2 linked regions of the Homo sapiens genome follow. Changing the gene in region 1 together with any one later gene gives a genetic interaction. Each region holds a gene or a part of one and is shown on either strand. Other genes may lie near its edges.

What was found. A genetic interaction does not mean that the proteins touch.
Region 2: of IMP3 (region 1) and ATG10, changing one suppresses a phenotype caused by changing the other (phenotypic suppression), as found in Homo sapiens cells (one large-scale study listed by BioGRID).

The regions. Positions count from the first base shown.
Region 1 is NC_000015.10:75,638,593-75,641,496, reverse strand, and holds IMP3 (U3 small nucleolar ribonucleoprotein protein IMP3), read left to right. Parts: upstream 1-1,272; 5' UTR 1,273-1,328; coding exon 1,329-1,883; 3' UTR 1,884-2,404; downstream 2,405-2,904. UniProt on the Homo sapiens protein: Component of the 60-80S U3 small nucleolar ribonucleoprotein (U3 snoRNP). Required for the early cleavages during pre-18S ribosomal RNA processing. Part of the small subunit (SSU) processome, first precursor of the small eukaryotic ribosomal subunit.
Region 2 is NC_000005.10:82,167,523-82,171,022, forward strand, and holds part of ATG10 (ubiquitin-like-conjugating enzyme ATG10), read left to right. Parts: intron 1-3,500. UniProt on the Homo sapiens protein: E2-like enzyme involved in autophagy. Acts as an E2-like enzyme that catalyzes the conjugation of ATG12 to ATG5. ATG12 conjugation to ATG5 is required for autophagy. Likely serves as an ATG5-recognition molecule. Not involved in ATG12 conjugation to ATG3.

The DNA of each region.
Region 1 (2,904 bases):
CTTTATAATTTACATATTATATTATTTTCCAGATATCGAATATTTTATATATATATATATATCTTTTTGAGACAGGGTCTGGCTCTGTTGTGCAAGCTGGGGTGCGGTGGCACCATTGTAGCTCAATGCAGCCTACAAGTCCTGGGCTCAAATGATCCTTCCCCCTCAGCCTCCCAGGTAGTCAGGACTACAGGTGCGCACCACCATGCTTGGCTAATTCTTTAAGATTTTTTACAGAGGTGGGATCTCGCTTCTTTTTTCTTTTTTTTTTTGCCTAGGTTGGTCTTGAACTCCTGGCCTCAAATGATCCTCCCACCTCAGCCTCCCAAAGTGCTGGGATTACAGGCATGTGCCACCGCGCCCAACCCTCAAATATTGTATTGTAAAAGACAATGAAAAGCATACAAAACAAAAATGATCAGTGAGAAGCTAGGTGGCGTCAAATGCCCGGGCAAAAAGGGGTTAGGTCTGCAGCGCTATACTCAGATGTAACTTACAGATGCAACTAGCGGAAACAGCATTAAATTTGTTAACTCAATGCTTGGTGGCCAGAAATTCATGTCAGGATAATTCATTTGAGCACAGACTAAAGGGTTTGGACTTGTAGTTATAGTCCAAGTTTCTCAAACTTGCTGGGTTTTATGAATCATCTGACACTTTAGTTAATAATACAGATTTCCAGGCGACTCCCTTATAGATCCCTTTTCTGTGGGCCTAGGAAGCAGCCAATCAGTATTTCATGGGTTCGGTGCCACCTATCCCAACTTGACAATGAGAGATCGCTCTGCATGCCAGGTGAAGGACCTGACGCTGGCGGGCGGCGGGGACTACCAGGTCAGCCCCAGGAGAGCCGGCTCCGGCAAGCTCCCCCAAGGCATGGCAGGAGCCCAGTGCAAGTTAGCACAGTAAACCCAATCAACAAGCCGCAGTCACCCCTCTTCCCCAGAAATGGCCTCTTCAGCTCTTGCGGGGGAGACTCTGAAAGTCCCCAAAGGACAGAAGTCTAGGAGGAAATGATTGCCGCAGAAAGGGATACAGTCTTGGCTACTAAAAACCGCGCGGAACCGCCTAGGGACCCGCTCCCAACCACCCACCTCCGGTGCTTCTACCCCCTCCCTCGCAAACGCGAAGAAAAGAAGAAACGCGAGATCCCAGTGCAGAGGCGTGGTCCCACCCTGGCCAATGGGAAGTGAGGGCGTGACTTTAAGTCTTTCTTTCATTGGCCCAGGGTCCCAGGCCGTCCAGGTCTTGGGGCGCCGCGGCGGAAATCGCGCGGATGCCAGAACGCGCTCTCAGCTTCGGGTCCTGCGGCTGCGGCTGCCGCCATCATGGTGCGGAAGCTTAAGTTCCACGAGCAGAAGCTGCTGAAGCAGGTGGACTTCCTGAACTGGGAGGTCACCGACCACAACCTGCACGAGCTGCGCGTGCTGCGGCGTTACCGGCTGCAGCGGCGGGAGGACTACACGCGCTACAACCAGCTGAGCCGTGCCGTGCGTGAGCTGGCGCGGCGCCTGCGCGACCTGCCCGAACGCGACCAGTTCCGCGTGCGCGCTTCGGCCGCGCTGCTGGACAAGCTGTATGCTCTCGGCTTGGTGCCCACGCGCGGTTCGCTGGAGCTCTGCGACTTCGTCACGGCCTCGTCCTTCTGCCGCCGCCGCCTCCCCACCGTGCTCCTCAAGCTGCGCATGGCGCAGCACCTTCAGGCTGCCGTGGCCTTTGTGGAGCAAGGGCACGTACGCGTGGGCCCTGACGTGGTTACCGACCCCGCCTTCCTTGTCACGCGCAGCATGGAGGACTTTGTCACTTGGGTGGACTCGTCCAAGATCAAGCGGCACGTGCTAGAGTACAATGAGGAGCGCGATGACTTCGATCTGGAAGCCTAGCGGATCTCCCACTTTGCATGGCTGTCTTTTACAGATGGGAAAACTGAGGCCTGATGCTGGAGATTCTATGAGGGTGCTCTCCTCAAGGGTATCAGACGGTCGTAGGTTCTTAAGAATTTGATTCATCAGTGGCAGGCCATGCATAGAGCCACGGGAGGTGCGTCCTTGTTTTCCAGGGAATGTTCTTAGAACTTGGACTACTGATTATTAATTGACTGTGCCTTGGGAAACAGTGGGAAGTAACTTGGTGCAGCACTGGGGTATTGTTGGCTTCTTGTGTTGGAAACTTTGTAATGTAAAAGGAAAAACTGGAAATCCCCACGCCCTGTTTCCCTTTATCGTCTTGTGGTTGGACTGGTTCAATTCGTTTAACTCGAATTCTTGCTCCTGGCCGTGGTTAAGCTGTGTACAGATGATGGAGAGTTTGGCCTCAAGTTTTTATAAACTGAGCGAGACTAGTGTTCAGGATCTCCTCCCTTGTTTAAATGTCAATAAATGCCCCAACTGCTTTGTAAGTGCAACTTTTTAATCTGTCTGGTTTTCTTTTTTTCTCTAGAGACGGAGTCTTGCTCTGTCACCCAGGCTGGAGTGCAGTGGCGCGATCTCGGCTCACTGCAACCTCCGCCTCCCGGGTTCAAGCAATTTTCCTGCCTCAGCCTCCCGAGTAGCTAGGAGTATAGGCGCCCGCCACCGCGCCCGGCTAATTTTTGTGGTTTTAGTAGAGTCAGGGTTTCACCATGTTGGCCAGGCTGGTCTGGAACTCCTGAACTCGTGATCCGCCCGCCTCGGCCTCCCAAAGTGCTGGGATTACAGGCATGAGCAAACTGCGCCCAGCCTCTGGTTTTCTTACATAGAGTCATATTTATACGTCCCAGGAGCCCAGAGAAGAATAGAGTCAGCAGCGAGTGACCTGCCTGTGGATTAGATGTGCAACAGGGCCACATGTGGAGGATGCAGGATGTTGTACAGGATTGGGCAAATTTGTCACTTTACCAGTCCCTTCCTTGGAATGAGTGTTTTG
Region 2 (3,500 bases), on another chromosome or scaffold:
ATGCCAGGTTTTGAAAGAGGAAGTAATTCTGTTGTCTCCAGGAGACCTAAGACCCAAACCATCTATGTATCTTTACTCTTTAGTCTGATACTTTTCAGAGACTATAGGAGTAGTGGACTTAGAAAAATAGAACATCCTGAGGACTCAAAAGTGGGTATCCAAACTAGCTGAAGCAGCTGTTCCACTTCTATAAACACGTATTTTTATTTAATTCTTGAAGGCAGACAGCCAAGTTGAGACAGCATTCTGCTTCTGCCTCTCATTTCTACTACTTTGGTGTACAGGAGCTCAGTTACCAAGTGGGCAACGTGGATTTAAGAGAAGAAATAAGCCCTTCCATCCCAATGTTCTGTTTTTCTCTAACTACTTTTGTCATTGTAGGTTTGGGAGAGGTGGTGGGACACAGTTAATACCCTTTGTCACTCAGGAGAGGGTGAGACATAATTGCACGTCTGTTGAGTAATAATAAATAGCCTACATTGGAATAGTGCCTTATAGTTTAGTAAATCCACTCCCACAAAGCATTGACATCTTCAAGTGCATGCTGTTTTTTTTTTCTTTTTTTCCCACTGTTTTTGAAGCATACCATATTAAAGAATTTTTTGTATCATGCCAAAGCCTTCTATCCATTCCCTACCATTCTTATTCCCTGACCTTTTTATGTCTCATTTTCCCTTTTGAGGGCTCAGCTTTGATCAAAAGCTAGTGGCAAATGTTACAAAGGTGGTAAAACCCTTAGGCACATACATAATGGCCTTTTGCCTTACCAGAGGCCTAGGCTTAAATATTTTCTCCTTACATTTAGCTAGAGATTTCTATATTTATTTCATCTTGAATTCTGATTCATCTCTTTCTTTTCATTTGTTCTCAGTCTCTATTGAAAAATGGACCAAGTGGTTCTTCTTATTTTCAAAACATTTAATTCTTTGGATGACATATGGGTTCTTCTTGGGAGCTGTTTTGACATATTTCTTTAATTAGTCAGCAGGGCTGCATTTGAATAGAGGAGGAATCTTTTCCTCCATTCAGCAAAGGAATGGCTGTCCTTTATGGAGACCATTCTATTATTGGCCCAGGAAAAAAGGGTATAGAATTAAAAATGTAGCCTAAATATTTCATGTGAAAGATTTGTCCACTTGTTGTAGGCCTGAAGGATGCTCATGGAGAAACAGGGCAAAAGAAATAATCAAAGAATAGTTCCTTCTCAAAGGCAGCATGAATCAAACTAAGATAAACGCCATGATAAAGAAAGAATAATGGAAAGTTTGGAATTAAAGCAGCATATAAATCATCAAGCAGGAAAAGGATTGTCTGTGGTTTGCAATAAGAGGACATCTTTGGAGTGCATAGAGGAGAATGACAGCAAAACAGGAAAGATGGGGGTTGGAGGAAGCCGAAGAATAAAAGTAGAATATCCATAGCTCTGTCCAACAACTTGTAGAGGACAGCCACAGGTTGGGTTTCTTGAAGAGGTTAGGAAAAGCACTGTAGAAGGGGAGGAGAGTGAGTGCCAAGCTATGGGGGCTGGAGGGCTGGAGAGAGCCCACCATATTTGGAGAACAGTGAAGGACCAGTTTGGAGTAGGGGCTAACTTAGGATGACTTACGGAAGAAATAGTTGAAAAGATATGTTGAGGTCAAATTATGGAAGAGATAATGGTTAGGAAGGGGTTGGAAGATATAAAGAAAAAGTGAAAGAGTTTGAGCAGAAGTGAATGAGACCAGAGGAAGGATGTCCTAGAAATTGTGCCTGAGTAAAACAGAAAGAAAAGGAATTGAAGGGTGAGAGTGAAATTTGGAAAAAAAAAAAAAAGGATTTGGCTTTTTCATTGTTGTTGTTATTAATTTTATAACAATTTAAAAACAATAACCTCTTAGAGAAAATGAAGAAAATGAGTTGGAAAGAACATATTTTCGGGGAAAGATGTATTATTGCAAGTACGGTAAGAGTTATGGTTAAGGCAGCTTGTTGAATAGGAAGAAAAATAGTGGATTAGAGAAGTATTTTAAGACTGGGGCAAAAACGACTCTAGTTAATTACTACAGTGAGCAGAAAATAGAAAATTATTTGACAGATAATTTAATTTAGAGTCTTAATTGTAAAGAATCTTTAAGAAAGTTTGTGTATTTATATTTATGTTACACATATGTTTATGTAGACAGTAAATCTAGCCAAGGTCATGATAATGAACCATAACATGAATTTTGGTGAATTAAAAAGAGATTCTAGGGATTGAAATGAATTTGAAGAGCAAACAGTGAAAGTTATTTTTAAGAATAATGAAAAGTTATCTAACTAATACAAATATATTCAAACTGAAAAGTCCAAATAACAGAGGAAATCTAGTGAGAATTATTTGTTGAGCCATGTAAATGTTTGAAATATTTTGGGGAATTAGGATAGAAGTCACATGCTGGGTTAGAACATATGATAGCAATAGAATCTCATTGAAAAATCAAGCCCTGTTTTGAAAATGTACTAAAGGAAAGGTGCTAAAGAAATGGGAAGTAAAACTACAGAGATAGCTAGTTAGCCAAAAGGTTTATTCTAAGCAGAATATTGCTTAGCCACATATACAAAAGGCAAGAGATTTTAGTTGGACCCAGAGGCTTGGGAGAGAAAATAACAAGGTAAGTACATTAATTTTATTAACCTGTAAGCGACTGTATTTTAGCTTTCTTAGGTGAATGTTTGTGCCATATGGAAAAAACATCTCTTTGCTTACTATTGGCACAATGAGCCCTGTTTGAAATACCTATTAAAATATACATGAGTGCCTACTGTGTGCACAACACAAATCTCATTAGCCTCTTTTTAAAATATGCTGAAACAAATCACTGCCTAACTTGTAACTCATGTATTGTTTTTCTGCTCCTTCAAAGTCATCAAAGCAGTATTCGAGTCTATATGTTAGGTGCTGTTTTGAGAAGGCAGAGACTGCATTCCATGAGAAGGAGACCAGGTTGGATGGTGGAAGTAAGGGTATTCAAAGTGCTGGTATAGAGTAATATAGTAGTAATAGGTCCATGATGTGGGGATAATGTTTGAGGAAAGCCAGGAATACAAATTACTGAGTATTAATCTCAAGAGTTTGGGATCAAAACCTCAGAATACTTTGGATAGGATTGAAAATAGAGTGTTGGCAGGGCGCGGTGGCTCACACCTGTAATCCCAGCACTTTGGGAGGCCGAGGCTGGCAGATCACCTGAGGTCAAGAGTTCGAGACCAGCCTGGCCAACATGGTGAAACCCCATCTCTACTAAAATACAAAAAAAAATAGCTAGGCATGGTAGCAAGCGCCTGTACTCCCAGCTACTTGGGAGGGTGGGGTGGAAAATCGCTTGAACCCTGGAGGCGGAGCTTGCAGTGAGCCGAGATCACGCCACTGCAGTGACAGAGCGAGACTCTGTCTCAGGGAAAAAAAAAAGAAAACAGAGTGTCTTCTGCTTTAGAACCAGCAGACCTTAGGCTGTAGATATCCAGCTGGTAGTATGGTTCTC